Regions from separate parts of the Homo sapiens genome. Here region 2 is linked to region 1. A link means that fine-mapping ties the variant in region 1 to the expression of a gene that starts in the linked region. Tissue or cell type: blood mononuclear cells. Region 1 holds a variant in brackets; the other region holds the start of a gene. All regions are shown on one strand. Distances are between the middles of the regions. Region 1 overlaps MYT1L (myelin transcription factor 1 like). Region 2 holds the start of PXDN (peroxidasin).

What was found.
Region 2: it holds the start of PXDN, and the variant in region 1 is fine-mapped to the expression of PXDN in blood mononuclear cells (TOPMed, PIP above 0.99). The same link has a PIP of 0.9 or more in NK cells, T cells and whole blood.

What each region holds. Positions count from the first base shown.
Region 1 is chr2:1,795,388-1,807,148 of GRCh38, reverse strand. MYT1L (myelin transcription factor 1 like) reads left to right here. Exons shown (of 25, transcript NM_001303052.2): 23 at 5,350-5,453. Among named protein-coding and RNA genes, the nearest start is that of PXDN, 57 kb to the right of the region's middle. RefSeq lists enhancers at 2,544-3,176, 4,403-4,902, 4,903-5,404. The variant G/C (reference allele first, on the strand shown) is at 6,460.
Region 2 is chr2:1,740,495-1,752,222 of GRCh38, reverse strand. PXDN (peroxidasin) reads left to right here and starts at 7,708. Exons shown (of 23, transcript NM_012293.3): 1 at 7,708-7,967. The coding sequence starts at 7,768. It overlaps LOC124907724 (a long non-coding RNA gene), which reads right to left and starts at 1,496. Exons shown (of 2, transcript XR_007086189.1): 1 at 749-1,496. RefSeq lists an enhancer at 443-943.

The DNA.
Region 1 (11,761 bases):
TCCTGTCCCCCAGGCTGCTCCTGTCTCCCAGGCTGCTCCTGTCAGTTTCTGCCTTCCAGAATACCCTGACCCACCCTCACAACCTCTCCCTGTGGATGCAGTCCCAAGCAGCCAGTGTAAGGACCCCGCTTTTGAGACACCAGGATAGCCAACTTTCGCTTTCTAGTTATTACGGAGCAGTGCTCCTTGCCAGAAAGAAAACATTCCCTAAGCCCCATCTGCATGCCGGGCGCTTTTCAAAATACTTAGAGGGCATTTCACCCCCGAATAACCCTGGATTAAAGTGGAAATCCTTAGACAATTGATCCGAGTCCACGTGCCTTTGTTCCCCATTAATGAAGGAAGTGGCGGTTAGGTTAGGTAGGCCAGTTCAAAACAGAAAAGGAAAGAAAATACGGAGAGAACAGATCTGCCAATCCTAGAGGAGGGGCCATTCACACCTGGGCTGGTCCACCTGGGCGGCGGTGGGCAGATCCCTGAGGTGGCCATCTCTTCATCGGTGGGCCTGAGTCGGCATTGAGGGCACTAGACATTCCTATTACTGCTGCACACAAGGAGTTAATTCACAAAAACAGGTGCTAACTCGGAGGGATAAAGATAAGCAGTTGGTCTGTGACTCTAAACTAGAGGAACCAACAACTGGGTGTCATCCCACCAGAAAGCAGCCGGGACACGGGCATTCCAGGGCCACCGTCCGCCCGCTGGGCCCAGCTGCTGCTGCTGGGCAGCCTTCAGCCAGGTCGCTGCATTTCACCCAAGTTTCTAGACACACAGTTCGTGTTGTGCTAAGTTTTAGGACAAACAGTTCCCCTTGCTGCAGATCCTAATGCACGCACGTCCATGGGTAAAAAAGAGGAGCTGCAGGTCACTGGGAGAACAGGTGGTGGAAGTGGGTCTTCCTAAGTCCAAGTGTGTGCTGATGCCTGGGGCTGTCGATTCCTGACACTGTTTGCACCAAACTGAGATAGTTCTTTCTTACCCCCAGAGCACAGTTGTGTGCCCAGGCATCATTTCCATGTCTGTGTAGCTAATCCAGGAAGGGTCCAGGGACCTTTCCTGCTGCTCATCAGGGGACAGAGGCACAGCATCCAATTCCTGCGGCTCTTCAGGGGACAGAGGCACAGCATCCAATTCCTGATGCTCTTCAGGGGACAGAGGCACAGCATCCAATTCCTGATGCTGTGGTACCATTCTTTGCATCTGAAGCTCTGTGTTCCTGTTGCCCTTGCTGTAGATGTGGAAAAGACAATCCCTCTCTTTTTTTGGACTGGGTCTCGCTCTGTCACCCAGGCTGGAGAGCAGTAGCACCATCTTGGCTTACTGCAACCTCCGCCTCCCAGGGTCAAGCGATCCTCCCACCTCAGCCTCCTGTGTAGCTGGGACTACAGATGTGCACTATCACACTCAGCTAATTTTTGTATTTTTGGTAGAGATGGGGCTTCGCCATGTTGCCCAGGCTGCTCTCAAACTCCTGAGCTCAAGCAATCCACCTCCCTCGGCCTCCCAAAGTGCTGGGATTACAGGTGTAAGCCACTATGCCTGGCCTTAAATATTTTACTATAGATGAGGTCTGACTATGTTGCCCCCTGTGTTGCTCTTGAACTCCTGAGCTCAAGCGATCTGCCCACCTCAGCCTCCCAAAGTGCTGGGATTATAGGCGTGAGCCACCATGCCCGGCCTTCTTTTCTTTCATATCCTGAGTGTAAAGCCTTTCCTGGGGTCATTTTTATACCTTCAGTGTAACAAGAGTGCGCAGCAGCTTCCCTCCATGTGAGGCCCAGACACTGTGTGGGACAGAGAAGCCACCGGAATCCACTGTGAGGCACTGACTCGGCCAAGAAGGACCCTGGCACTGGATTTTAGCGCTTTCTCTTGAGCATTTGTCTGAAAGGGAAGCAGCTATTCTAAATGTCCTTGAGGTTCCCTTCTGGCTCTAAAGTATTTTTCTTTCTTTCTTTTTTAAGTTTAGGGATGAGCCTGCTCTCATGTCTCTGCCCAACAAGGATCACCTTATTTTCTTTATCCGTGGAGTGATCTCATCACGCATTAGTACTCAGCTCTGCCTGAGCAGCCGGCGTGGCTGTTAGTGAGTCTCCCTTCAGAACCCTTTTGCAGAAGTTCACTGTATGCCTCTTAGCACCTTGGCACCTTGGCTGAAGTTGTACCATCAGTGGCTTTTTGGCGGGTAGTGGGGGCAGGGGCAGTGTTTAGGAGAGAAGGAAATAAGATAATGCTTTTTCTTTCCTTTTACTATCACAGCAGAAAGCAAGCTAGGGAAAGGAGCTCTAACCTCCATCAAGCCCTGAAAACATGAAGCGCTTTGTCAGGAACTTCACCTACTTATTTCGCTTAATATTCCTGAGAGCTCCAAACTGTGGGAACTCACGTTTCTATTCAGCTGTAAGGAAAAGGAAATTCCAGGAGGCATGGAAATTCCACCAAGCCATTAGTGAGAGTGACCAGCGCTGGCTGGGTTCACCATGGGACACTGGTCTCTCAAGAGCTACCAGGATCCTGAAGTAAATCAAAATCTTCCAGGACCACGCTATGCTAATTTGAGTAGGATTTGTTTGCTTCTTTGCTTTGGTGTCCAGTGGGTGGATTTTCTGGCTCTGAGATGCTGCTTTTTGGCTGGGCCCTCCCTGCTCAGGCCAGTTTTTTATAAAGGCAGTTTCTCCTGACAGCTTGCAGGCCAACTGGTGGAATGTATTATAAAACCCTAGTTGTGGCTGGGCGCGGTGGCTCACGCCTGTAATCCCAGCAGTTTGGGAGGCTGAGGTGGGCAGATCACCTGAGGTCAGGAGTTCAAGACCAGCCTGGCCAACATGGTGAAACCCCATCTCTACTAAAAATACCAAAAATTAGCCGGGTGTAGTGGCAGGCACGTATAATCCCAGCTACTCAGGAGGCTGAGACAGGAGAATCGTTTGAATCCGAGAGGTGGAGGTTGCAGTGAGCCAAGGTCACGCCATTGCACTCCAGCCTGGGCAACAAGAGCAAACTCCATCTCAAAACAAACAAACAACAACAACAAAAAAACCCTAGTTCCAGCCTAACCATCCACAAAGTGAGGCTCAGCTCAGAGGCCCCAGCAACCCCAGGGACTGCTTCCTGGGCCAGTCACTGCCCTGCTGCAGGGATAAGGAGAATTCCCACCCAACCCAGAGCTCTCCTCTCCCTGAGGGGGCTTCACGCCGAGGCGCACGTGCCTGGGGGCTCGCAGGATGTCCCAGGAATGTGGCTGTGGACAGCTCTACAGAATCAGTTTGCAGGCCCTCCTCTTCCACATACCCTCGTCCTACAGAATCTCATGGGCCGGGAATGCTCTGTGACCTGCCGGTTCTTCCTGGCACCGTTTCCCTGTCTCCCTCCTCCCCCTTACAAAGGAATGGCATGCTGCACAGAGCCGCAGTGGGCAGCCCCAGGACTGAGACGTTCCCAGGCTCCCACAAAGGGCTGTTGGTGACCACTTGGGCCTGAGGGTGGTCCCCCAGGACAGAGCAGAGCTATGGAAGTAATATCCACCCATCCATCACTCCCAGAACAAAATTAGAGATGAAAGGTTGTCATGGGACCCGTATCAAGACTTTTATTTGGATTTAAAATGACACTGACTTCTGTCAGAACAGTTGACCTGATCTGGCAGATCAATTAGATAACAAAGCCTGATAGGCCAGTTAGTTTGACATTTATCATGAATTCTTCAAACTAAGCATCCCAGTCCAAGGTTTTTGAAAGGCCTCTGCGAGATGGGATTCCTAGGAATGTGCTTGAGAAATTTGCCTGTGACAGCTGTAGAGGGTCGAAGCTTCACCACGTCCAGTGTTCTGAGGGCCTCCTTCACATGGAGGTGTTCTAAAGGCATTTGGATGCTTGCAGTTTAACAGAAGCTTGTGGGGAATGCTTCTGAAATGATACGTTCGTTCATAATTTAGTTGCTTTATGAATTGGGATTTTTTGCATTGGGTATTTTTATCTTGAGGGTATAACTTTTTTTTCGTTTCACTAAAAGCCGCATCTAAGGCCCAATCCCACTGATCCATCACTTTCTCTTACTCTCATCTTTCTAACGTCTTGGTAGAGAGGAGCCTCCACCTCTGTTCTGCTGATGTCAGCAGGGTTTTTGGGGTGCTCTCAGGCCTCGGCCTCTGGTTGATTGTACCCCTTCTGCCCTTCTGTCTGCAAAGCTTGAAAACAGCATCTACCCACTGGGAGTCCTAGGAGGCCTGGATACATTTTCCATTAGTTTTGAGTAAAGATCCATTGTGGTGCTGTGTGGCCAATGAGAACAGCAATCTCAAATCCTGAATTTTCTAGGGTGATTGTGTTTGCCAAACTCCTGCTCTCCTTCTGTGTACACCCAATTGTGTGAGGTCAAGTGGTCACAAATAGAGAGGAATCTCCTTCTCTTTGGCGTTGGCAGTGTAATGTTGCCAGTAACCAGACACAGCCGGCCAGGGAAGCAAGTGTCCAGAATGGCCTTTGTAAATATGGGCATCTGGGCCCTGTGCCCAGCTATGCCAGGACTGATCCAGGTGCCCCAGGGACCTCGGCAGGGCAGCAGTCACCCACCAGGGACACTCAGATGGTCAGGTACACACCTGGCCGAGGTCATCATTCTGGCAGAGTTTACAAATTGGGAATTCTGTTAGTTAGTGCATACTTTTTAATCATTCAGAATGAGATTTTTTATTTGCTAAATGTCGAATATTCAGAGAGCCCTTTTGTGGCCATCTCCCTCCGGCCAGCCCCCATGTCCCTCTCCCACTTCCCACAGCTTCCTGTCGGTGGGTAAGGTGAGGTCATCCTCAGCGTTTGCTGGACGGCATTTGTCGTTACACGTCTGTTGCCCATTTTCCGACCCAGAACCTGACCTGAGTGAGGGCGGGAGGACCTGGCCTTGTTGGTGAACGTACCTGCAGAGCCTGGCTCCAAGCCTGGGGTGTTTGCAGAATGACTGATGCAGACAGCGAGTCGAGAGAGAGAACAAAAGCAGGAGAAAACAGGCCAGGCTCAGCAAATCGGCACTCAGGACCAGGTGGTTTCTGCCTCGATACATCTAAGACCCAGGTTAACTGTCCCTGGGAGCTCGACCCTCAAAGTGCCTGGGAGTCTTCTGTGCGTCTCAATTGTTTGTTCCTTTTTGTAGGGGAACTTAGGTGGGGAAGGGGCGGTGGTAGGGAATAGAAAGACACAGAGATTGTGATGATTTTTTCCTTTCTAATTCAAGAGTCTATTTTCCAAGCAAATTCAATTACGAATATAAAAGGAACAAAGAAAGCTCCCAAAATTCTAACTCTAATATTTTTGTATATAACAGTTTTAACATACTAATATTCATTATTACAGGTATAGAAAATGATGAAGAAATCAAACAGTTAGATGAAGAAATCAAGGAGCTAAATGAATCCAATTCCCAGATGGAAGCCGATATGATTAAACTCAGAACTCAGGTAACAGTTTTTGAAGCCCTCAATTTTAGCTCTAACACGCGCCATTATACCAGAGATACATGGCATGAAATCAGCTTTTAGGAGAGCTGTCGTTTCCTCTTATTTGCTCTTTTATTTCCTTTATTTTTCCACCTTATGATATTGGTCTTCCGCAGACACCATTCCGTGGCAGTGTTCGCTGTAGCAGGGGCCGTGGTTCTCTCGTTTTCAGTCTGCATGTGTGTTTGTGTTTTTTAATAAAGTGCATTTGTGAATAGGCATTTTCAGAGGATCGCCTGTTCCTGCAAACAATGAAGGTTTTCCTTCCAAGATACTTCAGGTCCTCCTGTTATTTAATCACTATATTAAATGTATGGCGACAGCCGATGTTCCCAGAATTTAAAACAAGGAGTGCCTGCCACATAGGACTCCTGGGTGTCTGGGATTTGGGGAAGTGGCCCCAGTGACTTGCAGCTGCAGAGCCTGGGGATGGAGAGAGAGCAGTGGCAGCTGGCAGAGCAGCTGTGGTCACCTAACCCCCTCCATGCCCACAAGCAGCCCACAGGGTAAACGTCCTCAGCCTCATCTTAAACATACAGCTTCTAAGATGGAGAGGCAGCTTCCTCAGCCAAGCCGAAGCCACAGAGGCCAGGCTGGACCCTGTCTGACCATGAGCCTTGTGCCTGGCATCCCCCACCTTGCTGTGTTAGGGTCCCGCCGAAGTACACTCTGGGAGTGGAATTTATTTGCTGACCACCCGACCCTCACATTGCCCACAGGGTGAGCAGAGGTGTCCCTTCCTCTTAGAAATGAGGTCTCCATTCTGGCCCCTCCCCAGCAGGCCACGGTGTGATGAGGTTCTCGGGGGATGCTGACCAGCCTCCATGAAGGTTGCTCGGTTTGCTGGGAATGAGCCCCGAGAACTGGATGGAGATGAGGATGGTGTCACCGCCAGCCATCTACGTGATGATGCTCTCCTCCTAACACACTCCGAGGGCTCCCTTATTATCCCCGCTCTGTAAATGCA[G/C]AGGTTGAGGCTGGGGAAGGTTGAGGGCCTTTCCCATAGTCAGCCGGGTGTGGTCAACGGCTCTGCTCAACAGGTGGTTTCTACCCACTGGACACAGTTTTCCCAAGGATGGAGACATCCTCTGGGGCTGGGGCCCCACCAAGCAACCGAAAGGGATTTCCAGGCCCCCCGTGAGTACCAAGGATGAGGCCAAGGGTGGGAACTCCCCACCAGGCCATGTGGCTGCTGCCTGGGTGTTTTGATGCCAACCTACTTCCCCAGAGGGCATCACTGCCTTGATCTCACAGACCTGGTAGCCCCAGGGGCTGTGTTCAGGTCTTCCCAGAGTCTCGCATTGGCCTGGCTGGGGCTCACCCAACACAGGTTGGAATTTCCCTTAAGACTTACCTGAACGTTAGGCTTGGGGAATGGAGTAACAGCCTGTGGCATTCCTCACCCCCGGGACCAGCCGAGGCCATGGAGGCAGCATCTTGGACTGTATAGGAGACTCCATGGCTGCCAGAGCACTCAGGAGCTGCTGTTTCTGGGAGAGAGTAGGAGGTGACCAAGTCAGCAAAGATTGTTTAATTGGGACAGATCAAAAATTCACCCTTGAGTATTACTCCGTTCTCACACTGCTAATAAATACTTGAGACTGGGTAGTTTATAAAGGAAATGCGTTTAATGGACTCACAGTTCCACATGGCTGGGGAGGCCTCAGGAAATTTACAATCATGGCAGAAGGTAAAGAGGAAGCAAGGCACCTTCTTCACAAGGTGGCAGGAAGGAGAAGTGCAAGCAGAGGAAATGCCAGACACTCATAAAACCATCAGATCTTGTGAGACTCACTCACTATCATGAGGACAGCATGGGGGAACGCCCCCATGATTTAATTACCTCCACCTGGTCCTGCCCTTCACAGGTGGGAATTATAGGGATTATAATTCGAGGTGAGATTTGGGTGGGGACACAGAGCCAAACCATATCAAGTTGTATTCTGTTTATGAGGGTGACAAGCCTGAAAATCTTAATTTATTTCCTCCTTTGAATGGCACCTTTTGGGGCACTCTCTGATGAGGCAGAATGCCCTTGTCTGTCCAGGGTGTTGAGTCCATGGTCTACTGGGGCAACCCAATTCCAATAGGATGCCATTCAGGAAGGGGGTTCTTCCCACTTTCCAAAACCCCTCCTTCTGCAGTGAAGGCCTGCTGCTCCGTGGCTGTCCATGAGGGATAGACGGCAGCTCTGATGCCAGCTGTGGATGAAGTACTGGGGCTGGGGCTCAGCCGAGGGCTGAGTAGGCTTAGAGGTCATGCCGCCTGGATCTGAGCCCTAAAGAACAACGCATGTGCCTACGCAGGCTGCTTAGAGTAGGAACCCCAGGCACGCTCTGCACCTGCACGGGCGTGGCCTCCCCCTCAGGAAACACTCAGGTCTGTGTCTGTTCTCACTGGCTCCTTTGTGCCTTTATCTCTGAGATGAGTAGTTGCTCCTAACAGCATCTATTTGGACCTGATGTCAAAAATGAATGTGAAGAGTTCACATTTATTCTCACTGACTCGGCTGATGAGAGAGGTGACTTCCCAGATGTGCCCAGGGATGGACCTTCCTCTATTCTAGAAGGGATGGGAATGCGCTGAGCCGGAGTCCCCCAGCTCTGCAGCTCTCAGGGTCGGATGATGAGCTCCAGCCCAGAAGTTGTTCTGTGAGCACCAGGCCTGAGCTCAGAGACAGGCAGCTGCTGACTCAGGCAGCTTAGAGCCTGATGTTCTTTAAACAGGTTAGATCTGGAGCAAAACTTACCAGAAAACAATGTGCGCCCACAGCCAGGAGCCCTCCTTGCTGCCTGTGCCTCGGCCACTGCCCGGGGAGTATGGAGGAGGAACGTGGGGCAGGCCAGCTCTCCAGGGCATAAAGCGGCCCTGCCTGATGGCCTCGGCCTTCCTGCAGCAGCCTTCATGCCCCTTGCATTTTCCTTTAGAAGGTCCTGACTTTCCCGTGCCTCTCAGGCCCGCACACCCTCAGGGAGCATGGCCAGGAAGGGGAACTGGCCCAGACCCCGTGTTTTCTTGTCCACTCTGACCCAAGAGAAAGGCAGACTTCTCCCAGTGCGTCATGACATGTTCAAGACACACTGACACGAGGATGCAGACCTGTGCACAGAGCCCAAGCCAGAGATGACACAGGGCTGCAGGCCTGTCCCAAGCCCAAGCCATGAGATAACTGAGAAGTGGGTGCCCACGGCCTGATGTTCTCTCTGGAATGGGAGCGGAGGAAAGAACGGTAGGGTCAGTGCTCAGGCCTACAGCCCGGTGATGAGGGTCCTGCACAGGGAGAGGTCCAGATTTAAATCTGATAAAGAACAAATCCAAGAGAAGGAAAAAGGAAACTCCGTCCAAGCCTTTAAATTTCACACCTGTGCCGGATGGGGAAGACCGCCACGCCTGTGCCGGATGGAGGGAGACCGCCGCGCCTGTGCCGGATGGAGGGAGACCGCCGCGCCTGTGCCGGAGAAGAGGGAGACCGCCGCGCCTGTGCCGGATGGAGGGAGACCGCCGCGCCTGTGCCGGATGGAGGGAGACCGCCGCGCCTGTGCCGGAGAAGAGGGAGACCGCCGCGCCTGTGCCGGATGGAGGGAGACCGCCGCGCCTGTGCCGGAGAAGGGGGAGACCGCCGCGCCTGTGCCGGATGGGGGGAGACCGCCGCGCCTGTGCCGGATGGGGGGAGACCGCCGCGCCTGTGCCGGAGAAGGGGGAGACCGCCGCGCCTGTGCCGGAGAAGGGGGAGACCGCCGCGCCTGTGCCGGAGAAGGGGGAGACCGCCGCGCCTGTGCCGGATGGGGGGAGACCGCCGCGCCTGTGCCGGATGCAGGAAAGGCCTCTCCTGCCACTCTCTGCGGAAGGGGTTGCTTGTTACCTCTCAAGCCCAGGAGTGTTCTTACTAAAACTTGGAAAGGTATTTTTCACTGTTCAGTTGTAAGAATTCAAATTAGGACAAACGCAATTTTATTTAATTGAGAAGATGAGGTTTCCAATTTGGAATGTGTTTAAATGCTATTTGAGGTCCAATTAGTGCGACCAACACAATTCCTATGTGGCTGAAAAATCCATTCTTATGCTTGGCAGCTTGAAAAGAAGAGTCTGCGTCGGGGTCTTCACCTCACACAAACGCAATCAGAAGTCCGGGCCCCTGGCCGGGCACAGTGGCTCACGCCTGTAATCCCAGCACTTTGGGAGGCCGAGGCGGGCAGATCACGAGGTCAGGAAATCGAGACCATCCTGGCTAACACGGTGAAACCCCGTCTCTACTAAAAATACAAAAAAGCCTAGCGTGGTGGCGGGCGCCTGTAGTCCCAGGTACTCGGGAGGCTGAGGCAGGAGAATGGCGTGAACCCAGGAGGTGGAGCTTGCAGAGAGCCAAGATCGCGCCATGGGCGGGAAAAGAAAAAAAAAGAAGTCCGGACACCGGTCCCTTCCCAGTCTCTAATGCAGGCTTCCTCTGGGGGTGGCCCAGCACCAGCAGAACGGCCGAGGTGCCTGTGGGGTCTGCGTTTCCCCAACCCCATTCAACTGGATTCAGTGTGGCCTCAGCTTCAAGGGCTGAAGCACCCAAGCTGGACACACCCAAGCCTTGGTTCTGGACTCCACGATTCCCCAGACGCATCTCATCCGATTCAACTCAGTTCACACCAGAGCCCGGAGCAGAGACAAGAAAAGCTTGCCCTCGGCCCCAGGGGACACCCAGAAGTTGCTTGTTATCAGAATCCGGAAAAAAACAAAACTGCCGCTGAGGAGGAGAGAGCAGGGGACTCAAGTGCAGGGCACGGCCTGGGCAAGCGGCATTTGTGTGAACCACATGAGTGCTGAGAGCCGGAGTTCGAGACCCCACCGTGGGGGCCTGGAGCAAGGAGCCCGAGGAGAGACGGCGGGAGTCCTGCAGACACGGGAGGTGGAGGAGGGAAAGGAGCACTCCAGGCACAGGAAACAGCAGGAGCAGAAGGAGGATGGCTCGGAGCCGGCTGGGAGGCTGGGATGCTGCCCCCCGTGGCCCAAACAGCAGGCATTTGTCAGGGAGGTGGGGATGGGGGTATTTGAGTATAAAAGGGAGCTCGTGTTTTCAGGACAGGCTATTCACAAGAAACCCCCCAGCTCCTGGTGCGAGGGCCCAGATGGACCAGAGTGAACAGCCCTGTGCAGCTTGACTTCTAAGATTGGCAGGTCAGTTAATCCCACAGCCTGCACCACTTTCAGAAGATGGCTGTTCTCCCTGGGGCTAAGCCTCTCTGTGATCCAGCCTCCCTGGTCAGCACGGGCATGGGCAGGAGGCAGTCCTCCCTGCACGAGGACACTTTCCTTGGGGTTACACCCTTCCACCACCCCACTGCTAACGCCTTGGGATTCCCACCCATTTTACACTTCTTCCGGAAATGTTTTCTAAACACATCACGCCATCAAGGTACTTAGTCTAGACCAGGGATTGGCAAACATTTTCTATAAAGGACCAGATGGCAAATATTTTAGGCTTCTGGACCACGCAGCTGTGTTGCAGTGTGACAGCCTCAAAACACGTGTGAGTGTGACCCTGTTTCAACACAGCGTCACGTGGTGCTGCAGTCGGAATTTAATAGCTCTTATATGTTACAAAATGCTGTTATTCTTTTGTTTTTGTTTTTTTTCTTACCACTAAAAAATGCAAACGCCATTCTTAGCTTAGTCTTAGCTTTCAATGTCAGGCCCCAGGCTAGATTTGACCTTTCTCTACTCCAGGTGTGGTCAGAGACTGCGCAATCTAAGAAACGCTGAGGTCTGGAAAGACAGAGGGTGTGGACAAGTCTGTAAAAATGCGGGTTTGGGCCTAGACTGGCCATCAGGCTGCTGCTGATGCAGGAACTTTCTTGGGAAGATCCGGGAATGCACTGCTTCCTAGCAGCCTGAAAAACCTTTGATGTTTCTTAAACAATCAAAAACAGAACCCACCTTCGTCAGAGGGCTCCCTGCTTTACCACAGGCAACTCGATGTTTCTGGAAATGCAGACTCAGGTCCGCCAGCGCACATCATTGATGACGGCCGAGGTGGCCGGCCCAGCTCCCAGCCAGGCCCCCACACCCACTCGCGACACAGGCCCCTCCCTGCGTAAGCACCTGTGATCAGGGATGCCTTCTGAGTGCCAGGAACCATGTACTGTGGCTGCTGTGGGTTGGGTTTGGAAGGGAGACACCGGCCTCTGTGCCCCTCCCCAGCCTGCTCAGCCCCATCCTCGGAGGAGGCCTGGCGTATGAGGGCCTGGGCGGAGCCCCTACATCACCTTTCTCAGCAGTGCTGT
Region 2 (11,728 bases), 55 kb after region 1:
GTGGGGGCATGGTGGAGATGCTTGGTTGCTTCCCTAACTGCCTCACCTCTCAGTCGCCCAATTAAACTCCCTCCACTGTAACCCTGAAACCCTCTCGGTGCTTCCCCCTCCTGCAGAGGCCTTGGCTAGCCCCAGCGCGGCTCATGGAAGGCAGGAAGCAGACCCTCTCCCCGAGGGTGGACAGAGGGTCGCCCACCTCCGCACACAGCGTGCCAAGGGCCTGGGCTGGGGAGGCCTCTGTCTACACCCAGGACCCCTGTTGGGGAGGGGGTTATTAGCGGGACCCCTCTCCCAGACATGAGCCTTCCACCCTCTGACTTCATCACCTAGGCATGCAGAAAGCCCCTGTTGGCGCCTATCTGAGAAAAATGTGGAATCTAAGTGTGCGGCTTAATTTACATAAAGATCCCATGGGGGAGGAGCAGTGAAGATGTGACTCTCACAAGGTGAGGACCCTCAGGACCCCTCTTCTCTCCACTCCTGGGCATGTCCCGGGTGCCTGACCCGGTGCTCTGGCGGATGGAGGGACCTTTGGACAGAGAAGTGGTGACTCTCCATGCTTAGCATTTAAATTCTAGAATCTCATCTTTCTGTGGCTGAACTGAACACAGTAAATTGTGTTCTGAGCCTGCAGCTGCCTCTCACCGTGGGTCTGCCAGGAGCCTGGTGCCCTGCCCGGCTGTCCTTTGCTGTGGTTGAGCTGACACTGACCGGGAACTCACTGGGAACATGGCTCTGACCCACTCACCTGAGCCTTGTGACATCCAGCAAGGGGGACAAGCCTTTTCCATACGACCTCGGGCCCCAGCATGAGCACCCAGGAGAAGATCTCAGCGCAGCTCCTGCTGTGAGCTGGTCTTCAGACAGCCGCCGCCATGGTCTTCACGGGCCTGCTGTCCTGGCACCCTGCCTGGCATGCTGTAGCACACAGGGCAGTGTGTGCAGAGAAGGGGGCCCGGGACCAAGTGTCTCTTCACTCACTGCGTCTAAGTACTATGTGTGACAACGAAACAGTGTTCCTTGGCACAACTCACACCTGGAAGGAGTGTTTGCTGTGGGACAGATCACAAGACTGGGGGCGGATAACAGGATTGGAAAGTGGCCATCAGAGGGGGTGAGAGTATTTCACCTGGGCCCGGAGAACATGAAGCTTAAGCTGTTGTGCTCCTGCTCAGACAATTCACCCGCAGACGCCGGGCTGGGGAGGTGCGAGGCTTCTGTGGGCCTCTAGAGGGCAGACGCAGGAAGCCGTGAACAAAACACACGGCTGCACATTCAGCTCCACAGGGGAAGAGCTCACCACCAAAACCTCATTCTTTCAGGCCCAAGTCATTGCACTGACCACCCCCTGCCCAGACTCCCCTGCCAATGCCACACACATGCAAACGAATGCTATGCCACTCGGGGGTCTTCAGGGACACATAGGATGGGGTCCATAGGATGGATCCGTGGATGGGGATGGGGAGAAGGGAGGGAAGGAGGGAAGGGATTGGGGGAAGAAGGAGGAAAGAAGAGAAGGGAGGGAGGGAGGGAGGGGGGGAGGGGGGGGAGGGAGGGAGGGGGGGGAGGGAGGGAGGGAGGGGGGAGGGAGGGAGGGAGGGAGGGAGGGAGGGGGGAGGGAGGGAGGGAGGGAGGGAGGGGGGAGGGAGGGAGGGAGGGAGGGGGGGAGGGAGGGGGGGAGGGAGGGAGGGAGGGAGGGGGGAGGAGAAGAATGAACGAAGGAGGGAAAGAAGGAGGGAGGGATGAATGGATGCAAGGATGAGTACATGTATGAATAGGTGAGTTGATGGGTGGATGGATACATTGATTGATGGATAGATTTTTTAAATCGGCTCAAGTGATTGTGGGGCCAGCAGGTCTGAAATCAGGAGCTGAAGCTGCAGCCTTGAGGCAAAATTTCTCCTTTTCTGGGAAACCTCAGGTTTTGCTCTCAATGCCTCCACCTGCTTAGACAGGGCTCACTCACATCATCAAAGGTCACCTCCTCCACCTAAGGTCAACTGATGATAGAGATTAACCACAACCGCAATACCTTCAGAGCAATGTCTAGATGAGTGTGGCCACGTGGACATATAAAAGCAATCACCACAGGTGACTTGGGAGATGCCTGTTGAACTGGAAAGAAAAGCCACCAATTCGTGATGCCCTGAAATGCTCCTGTGGGTGGCAGCAGGTGGGGAGTGTGGATGTCAGGTACAGGCCGCCGTGTCTGAGCGAGGGTGGACTACACACTAGGGAGCCTCTGGGCCACTGGGTGACACTCTGAGAAGTGTCACTTGAAGGTGGCACCAGCGCACTTGGAAGGCATTGAGTATCTGCAGTCACAGGGCCCCTCCTCACGATGGAATGTCCATACCCAGCACTTCCCCTGGAGTTCTGTTGAGATGCTGAAATGACCTCATAATCATTATTATGATGTTTCTGATGATTTCTAAACTTGAGCAAACTTAAAGCAGAGAATGCAGAGGTCTTTTCCAGATGTTTCTAGTCTTTGTCACCCACCCCAGCGAATGTCAGGGCAAACTCAGAACTGCAAGGCTGCCCAAGAGTCCACCTGATCATCTGGGGCTGGGCAGTAATGCACGCAGTGTAGCACATGGTACACTTGTTTTCACCCAACAATGACTGTTCTAGTCCATCCCCGAGGGCTCTTGGCCTTGACAGGGAGCTAGGCATGGAAACCTTGTCCTGGGGCTGTGTGGGGTGGGCTGTAGCACTAGAAGGATATTCACACTGGGAAGACGGTGGGAACCAGGGCCTGGAGGGGTGCACAGAGGGAGCCACCCAACTGAGCAGATTCTAGAAGGTTCAGTAGCAGTTTGCCAGGAAATAAAGTTGAAATAAGTTGATGTCTGGTGTTTGTGGAGAGAAGGGGCTGGAAGAACAGACGCAAAGCCACCGGAGATGGTGGCCCCAAGCCCACCCCATTAGGCAGGGGGCTGAGAGGTGCTTGCATACAGCGGTGGCAGGGTCCGAGCTGCGGCACATTCTCTGTGAGCTTCATTCTCTGTGATGAGCCAGGCAGACCCAAAGGCACATGCCCAGGAGGGGTCTCAGTGGTGGTCCAGGGGCCAGAGCTCTGCCAACAGCCATGTGGAAGGAACAGTGCTCAGCACAAGGAATTAACAGGATCCTGTGACTGCTGTATTTAAGGATGGGGTAGGGATTGAGGTGAGAATGACCTCCAGGTTGGCGGAGGATTGCATTAGAGATTCTGGAGAAAAAGCGCATTTTTTATGGAGAGCGATGTTCTAGTTTCTGACATCATAACATTGGAATTCTTGTGGGACATCGAGGTGGAGATGTCTGGAAAGCATCTGGAAGTGAGTACGGAGCCCCAGAGCGTGCTGCGGGTAGATGTGTGACTCCTTAGTACCTAGGACACCTGGATGGCTTGGAAAGGGTCCCTAGATGACCAAAAAGGTAATTACGCCTTGTGAGCGGGGTGCTTGCTTAAAACGGCAGACACAGCAGCGGGTGCCACTTTCCTAAACACGAGTATCCATGTAAAGCTTGTGTGTTTGAGAAGGAATTGGGTCTTTTCCTCAGGTTCCCGGGACAGAGCTTCCAAAGCCCTTGGAATTTCCCCAGGGACAGGAGCGTGTGTATTCATGATGAGCTCCCAGCCATGTCTGAGCTGACGCTGATGAAGGAACACAGGATGGAGGCTGATCACTAGGACTGACCATGCGATTGTAGGGTGAAGTGTTTGGGCCTTGTGCTGTCAGCCTGACCTCCCTGGAGAGTTCAACCCCATGGACAGTGTGTCATCAGTCCTGCTTGAGCCATAAAACCCTGGTGAAAACTCTGGACACCAAAGCTCAGTAGAGCTTCCCTGTTGGTGATCATGTCCCTGTGCCGGGTGGTGATGGGCCCTGATCCCACAGGCCAGGCACAGAGGCTCTGCATTTGGGACCCTCCCTGACCTCACCTGATGTATTTCATTTGGAGGTTCAGATTGGTATCAATTATAATACAGCTGTATTTGTAACCACAGCACTTTCATCTGTTGTGTGGGTGGTTCCAGCAGGAGATGGAGCTGGAGGGGGTCTCAGAAACCTATGAATCTGTAACCAGTCAGAAGTGTGGATGGCCTGGGGACCACTGGACACACAGGTAGTATTAAAGTGAGGGCAGCCTTACTGAGGTCCATCCACATCTGTAACCTGCGGGGTCTGCTCTAGCTCCAGGTACTTAACAGCAGGACTGTACTGAAGTCTGCCTAGGACTCTGTCTCCTCCTCTGCTGAATATAATGTTTGCAGCTCCCACCCAGCATTCTGCCATTATGGAAATACAGAAGAAGCATTCTCACAAGCATCCCTGTTCTACACAAACTCAAGAGTGACACGTGGTAGGCAGCCTCTAAGATGGTCCCCAGTGGTTCTGTCTCATGTTCCTTACGCTCCCAGTTGATGCTCTGCTGTGGCATGTGCTGGACGCAAGAGCATCTGTGGATGGAATCCAGCAGGAGAGATGGCGTCCAGTGTGAGCTGGAACAACAGGAGGGTGTGGAGAGGATCCAGGAGGAGTGATGGCATCTGCATCTGGACCCACTGGTGTGTGTGCACAGGATCCTGCGGGGTGATGGCTGAACCCACTGGCGTGTGTGCACAGGATCCTGCGGGGTGATGGCTGAACTCACTGGAGTGTGTGCACAGGATCCTGCAGGGGTGATGGCACCCGGAGTCTAATCTGAACCCACTGGAGTGTGTGCACAGGATCCCGCAGGGGCGATGGCACCCGGAGTCTGAAATGAATCCTCTGGAGTGCGTGGACAGGACCCTGCAGGGGTGATGGCATCGGAATCTGAACTAAACCCACTCGAATGTGTGCGCAGGATCCCGCAGGGGCGATGGCACCCGGAGTCTAATCTGAACCCACTGGAGAGTGTGCGCAGGATCCCGCAGGGGCGATGGCATATGGAGTTTCAGCTGGACCTACTCGAGTGTGTGGATAGAATCTTGCAGGAGAGACGACATGTAGAATGTAAACTGGACTGAGTGGAGTGTATGGAGAGAATCCTGCAGGTGAGATGGCGTGTGCAGTGGGAAGCGGACCCACTGGAATCTTTGGGTGGGACCCAAACTCAACCACTGCTATGTGTAGACAGGATCTTTGAGGAGAGATGGCATCTGCAGTGTGAACCGAACCCACTGGAGTGTATGGATAGCATCTTGCAGGAGTGATGACATCTGCAGTGTGATCTGGACTGCCTCGAGTGTGTGGGTAGGATCCTGCAAGAGTGATGGCATGTGGAGTGAGCACTGCATCCACAGGACTGTGTGGACAGCAGCCTTCAGCAGTGATGATGTCTGCTGTGTGAAGTGGAGCACTGTAGTGTGTGGGTAGGGTCCTGCAGGAGAGATGGCAACTGGAGTGTGAACTGCACCCACTTGAGTGAGAGGTTGGGATGCTGCAGGTGGATGGCATTTGGAGTGTGAACTGGACCCACTTGAGTGTATGGGTAGGGTCCTGCAGGAGAGATGGCAACTGGAGTGTGAACTGGACCCACTGTTGTGCCTGGAGAGGATCCTGCAGAAGACAAGGCATCTGCAGTGTAAACTGGGCCACTGGGGTGTGTAGCTAGAATCATGCTGGAGTAACGGCTTCTGGACTGTGAGCTGGCCCCATTAAAGTGTGTGTATAGGATCCTGCAAAAGTGATAGCCTCTGGAGTGTGAATGGGACCCACTGAGGTGTGTGGATAGGATACTGCAGGGGTGATGGTGTCTGCAGTGTGAGCTGCAGCCCTGGGGCATGTGGATAGGACTCTGCAAAGAGACAGCATCTGTGGTGTGAATGGCACCGGTGGAATGTGTAGAGAGGATCCTGCAAAAGTGATGTCCTCTAGAGTGTGAACTGGACCCACTGGAGGGTGTGGACATCGTCCTGCAGGAGAGATGGCATCTAGAGTGTGAATGGCACCTCCGGAGTGTGTGGATAGGAGCCCGCAGGAGAGAGCACATGTAGAGCGTGAACTGGACCCACTGAAATGTGTGGACAGGATTCTGCAGAAGATACGGCATCCGGAGTGTGAAATGCACCACTAGTGTGTGTGCATAGAATCCTGCATAAGTTTTGGCATCTACAGTGTGAACTGGAGTCACTGGAATGTGTGAATAGGATCTTGCAGGAGAGATGTCTGCAGTGTGAGCTGGACCCACTTCTGTGTGTGGATAGTATCCTGCAGGAGAGATGTTGTCTGCAGTGTGAGCTGGGCCCACCGGAGTGTGTGAATAGGATCCTGCAGGAGAAATGGAATCCGGAGTGTGAGCTGCATCCGCTGTAGAGGGTGGATAAAATCCTGCAGGAAAGATGGCATCTGGAATGTCAGCGGGAGCCACCGACCTCTGAGGATGCACCCCGCAGGTGTGATGCGGGGCCAGTTCCAAGGCTGGGTTAGGTTTTACCCTGGCTTCTGTGTTGTACTCTCATTCTCTTCCTCTTTCTTCTAATACCTGCTCTGGGAGGCATCAGGCCATGTCCAGTGTGCAGGCCATGGAGACCCACACGGCAAGGAACTGGAACCCCCTGCCAGCAGCCTCGGGGGTCCAGTCCTTAGATGGTGCCCTGTGGTCAGCAATGCACCTGTGACCTCCGGGCTATGTCTCGTGGTAGTTGCTTTTGTGTTTTAACATAGCAACAGGAAACTAGCCTATTACCCACCAATCCCATTCCAGGCTGCTTTCAAACGCAGCTCAGGCTAGAACACCAGCACGGGGACACAGCTGAGACTTGGGGTTTGCGACGGGAACACGCCCATGCTGTGCCTCTGAATCTGGCACCGTCACCCTGTGGCCTGGGTTCAGCAACTTGGCCTCACCTTCCTTGTCTGTGAAATTCAGACTGGGTCCTTGTGAGATGATTGGAGAGAATGTATGAACTATGTGAGAACGCCACCTTTGTGCGTATCTCACGCAGTGTCTTCCCTCCTTTCCAAAGTCTTCTGCTGTCTCTAGACACACCCGACGTGGGGGGGGGGGGTTCCCTGGGTCTCCTCCTAGGTCTGTCCCAGGAGGGCACGCACTGAAGGCCGCGAGAATCCCGGGGGCTGCATTGCGCCGCGCCAAGGACTCCACACAGGACCTTTCATTTTCCCAACTGTGCTGAGCCAGGCGGCCGGCAGAGAGCAGGTGGCTGACAGGCCCCGGGGAGCCGGACCGCCTGGGTCTAATCTTCCCGCAGACTCCCTTGCTGTGCGCTTTGGGGCTTGGGCCTCAGTTTCCTCAAAAGGAATGAGGGGCTTTTTTGGAACGTTAAATAATTTCCTACGTGGTTGCGGGTAGGGAGAAGGAGAAAGAGAGGAGCGCGCCTGCGCGCCTGGAATCGTGCCCGGATCAGAGCAAGCGCTCTAAAAGTGTTACAAACATTAAGGCGCCAACTAAAAAACCCGTAGTGAGCGCAGGCAGAAACCACGGGTAAGAGAAGTGGAGAAGCTTCGCGTAGGCCCCAGGGTCCCGAGCCCCGAGTCTCGAGCGCAGAATCAGGGGTGCCAATGCTCTCCTCCGCGCCCCCGAGCGCTCGCCTTGGCCATGCGGGCCGCCCCACCGGGATGAGGGCGCTCAGGCCGGACGCTGGGGCCCCGGGTTCTCGCCCCGCCCCGCCCTCGGGGATTCAGAGGGGCCGGGAGGAGCCTCGCGCATGTGCACAGCTGGCGCCCCCCGCCCCCCGCGCACAGCTGGGACGTGGGCCGCGGCCGGGCGGGCGCAGTCGGGAGCCGGCCGTGGTGGCTCCGTGCGTCCGAGCGTCCGTCCGCGCCGTCGGCCATGGCCAAGCGCTCCAGGGGCCCCGGGCGCCGCTGCCTGTTGGCGCTCGTGCTGTTCTGCGCCTGGGGGACGCTGGCCGTGGTGGCCCAGAAGCCGGGCGCAGGGTGTCCGAGCCGCTGCCTGTGCTTCCGCACCACCGTGCGCTGCATGCATCTGCTGCTGGAGGCCGTGCCCGCCGTGGCGCCGCAGACCTCCATCCTGTGAGTGCCGCGGGGGACGCCGGGGGCGCGGGGTCCGGGGCTTCGTGGAGATCCGGGAGCGCAGGGGTGATCGGAGGTGGGGGGCGCGGAGGGTGGAGGGGGCATCGGGCGCGCGGGGGGCCTGGGGACTTGGGACGCAGAAGGGAACCTCCGAAGGGGGACGTGGGGGGACCTGGGCGCGGGGACCCGCTGGGCCTTTGTTCGCCCTGCGGGAGACGCCGAGGGGCGGAACAGAGCGCTGTGCGCGCGGCCTTCGTAGCCGCCTTTGTTCGGAACTCGGAATCCCCGCAGGACTGGGAAGTTGTTGGAGCCTCCGGGGCTCCCCCCGCTCGCCTCCCGCCGCCCCCTCTCATGCTCCGCCGGCCTCCCGCTTCCCCCTGGTTCGCGGCCCCTCCTCCGCTCACCTTTCCCCCGCTCAGGACCCCTCGGTCCCCCTCCGCTCCCCGAGCGCGGCGCAGCCCCCTCCGTCCTCCCAGCCCCCTCCGCCCCGTTCCTCGTCCTGTTCGCTCCCCTCCTCCGCTCCTCTTCCTCCTCCCCTTCCTCCTCCTCCTCCCCTTCCTCCTCCTCCTCCCCTTCCTCCTCCTCCTCCCTTCCCCTCCTCCTCCCCCCCTTCCTTCTCCTCCCCCAGCCTCCGCCCTCTCCCCCTCCCCCGCCCCTTGGAGCGCAGTGCCCACCCCATCCCCCCGCGCCGGGGAAGCCTCCCCAGAGGAGCCTCAGTTCCCGCAGCCGCGGCGCCCCCGCTCCCAGTGCCCCCGCATCTGCCCGGAGCGTCCTCTCCTGGGGTGTCCTGGGGGCCCCGCGCTTCTCAGGGGCTTTTCCTGCGCCCGGAGCGAGCCGGGCGGCCGGGGTTCCCGAGAGGGGCCGCGCGGTAGTCTCGGGGCAGCCCGGGTCTAGATGGAGCCGGGACTCAGAGCGGGTTTCTGCCTCGGGCATTTCTCTTCTTTCGCTTCTAATCCACGCGAGCGTGTTCGCAGTTGCGCTATACGTTTAACCGGATGCGTTGCGTTGGGGTTGACACCCTGTCCTGCGGGCCGTCCCGCGTCACGGTCTCCACAGCAGGAATCCCCATCCCTCCGCCCCGCGGCTCCAGGTACCGAGATGCCGCCAGAGTTCGCTGCAGGCCTCCTGTGTTCTGAAGCGAGTCGGATTCAACATTTTCGGGATCTGTGAACGCGGGCTGCGTTTCAGGCGCCGACTCTAATTTAGTCCTGTAGCGACTTTTCTGCATGCCAAAAATAGTTTTCACGTTTCTTAGCTGAGCCAGAGGACTTTTTGGCACCAGCAAAGAGTCTGCAAAAGTTGTAAAAAAATTGAGTGAACAATTCAGGAAGTGGGCGGCCAGTGCGCCTACCTCCGAAACAAAGTGCTGGGACAGACCACGGCTCCCAGGGGTCGCCGAGTTTGCAGGCTGCTTCCTGGAGGCCCTGGGGCGGGGCGGGGGCCCGAGTTCCTCTCCTCCTCCGCAGAGAGACCAAGGCTTTCTTTCCAGAGCCCGTGAATGGTCAGCCCAGGCCGGACGACTCGGGGGCATCTCACTCAACAGCAGTGGACTTTTAGAATGGAGCCGGGTGAGGTTTCCCTGGGTCTGGATAATGTAATTCTTGCTGAGCCAGTGGAAAAATGGCACCTCAAAGATTTTTCCCATCTGGTCAGTTTCATAAAGCTTGCGGTATGTTTTGCCCCGGAATATTAATTGCTTGTTGAAAATAACATGTTAAAATAAGTGTCGTAGGACACACATGGGGTCCTCTGCTCCGCTTTGCATGGTGTGCTCGTCCACAAACGCCTCACCGAATTTGAAAAAGGAGCTGAGAGTAGACGGGTGACATCATCGTCCACTCGCACAACACTTCCTCATAGGGTACATTTGCATCCATTTCTATCTTAAACTTTCAGGGGTTTTTGCAGTCTTCAGTGATACTTCGAAATGTCGCTGTTGAGTCACGTTGATTCTGTGAGGCAGGTAGACTGGTAGCTGTTAAGTTGATCGAATCCCTTATAGAACTAAACACTTTACTGGAGAAATGAACATACCCATTTTCTGGCGGTGGAAACAGAAGCTCTGGGAGAGAAGCGCAGCTCCTGACGCTATTCCTGTGGCCAAGAGGAGGAGCGTAGCGCTGGTGGCCAGAATGGAGTCCTGGCTGGATGCATTGCAGCCGCGTGATTTTTAGCAAGTCCCGTGTCTCCTGGGAGAACGTGAGGGTGTAGCTGTGCGGACCTAGGCACAGTGGACAGGTGTCATGAGCGAGCGCTAGTGAGTGCAGCCTGGGGAGGCAGGGACTGAGGGAAGAGGGAGACCTATTCTGCGGGGATATCCTGTTGAGGGGTCTCTGGGGGCATGGTCTGGTAGGCTGTTGCTTGAGATGACACAGTTCTACATGATACATGCTACACGTGAAGCAACATTTCATGTCCACTTTCGGCTTTCTCCCAGGACTGTGCTCTCATGTATATGTGATTATTTTCTATTACAATTTTTTGGTAGAAATTGGGAATATACTATATATGAAAATTTAAAAAAAAACCTGCCCCAAAGTTAGTTGGCTCATCCAACCATCACACCGTCCCTTTGCTTTTAGAGACTCACCTCCATCCCAGTCCCCCAAAAGATTAAATCAGAGCCATTGGAAAACATCTTATTGCTCCTTCCCCTCAAATGCTCCAGGAGTGTGTTTAAGCGGGTCTGATACTGGGTTGTTTGATTTGTGGCTTGGGGGCTTTGGAAAACAGTGGAATAAGCCCATCCATGACTCAGTTTGGATCGACCTTTGAGCTCCCTCAGCTGCAAGTGTGAAGGGAGCTCTGGAATGGCAGGAGCCCGCGCCCTGTGCTGCTCGGTCGGCGGTTTGGCCTTGCTGTTGGGTCTCCTGCAGAGCGCCTCCCCTCTGGAGGCCTTACTTAGTTCAGCTGTGTAGAAATGGTTGGTTTTTGAATACAGAATCATTCTGTACCCAACACAATAGAAGTTCATCACAATGGTAGTTCAAAGCTAGTATTAAAGATAAAGTATGCCGTTGTACGCCCCTTCCTTTCCTCCTCTCAACCCCAGGCTTTTTGGGGAGGTCACATTTGAAACATTCTTCTTCACGGTCACGCCGCTAGGGTGCTGGCTGGACACACTGGAGCTAGGCCCTCCACGCCCTCCTCCTGTCCTGCCTTCCTCTCTTCCCTGGAGCCGCCACGGTTGAGGCTATGGTCATGGATTCATCAAAACTAACATCCTCACCACAGTCCAGGCCGCTGCAAAGCCATGAGTTGTCCCAAACTGCAGTTCTGTGACAGAAACCCTGACATTGGAGGGGTCTGGGCATGTGGAGCTTGGGGTGGGCTCAGGGAGGTCGCATTGCAGAGAAACCACAGGCAGGCGCATGGCAGCCAGGGCGGGGCCTCCTCTCCTGCAGAATCTCCAGACAGCTGCTCCTCATTCTCAGTTTTTCTCACCATCTGCTGGGTGTTAGGCCCACGCCGTGTGCTGGGTGTTGGGCCACCCACAGAAAACGAGACCGGAATCTTGCCCTCATGGAATCCCCAGTCCAGTGGGGCCCCCAGAGAGTCAGGGGGCTTCCTGGGAGTGGTAAGATGACCCCAGGTGTGTGCAGTCCTGGTGGGACGGGGTATGGGGAAAGGGCGCACAGTGCTTGGGACCCTGCACTCTTGGTGGTCTGGACTGAGTGGACCAGCCCACCTCCCGGCCTGTGTTCACATGAGCAGAAGGTTCCAGTGTTGCTGCTCTGTGGGTCTCCTCCCGCCTGCAGGCC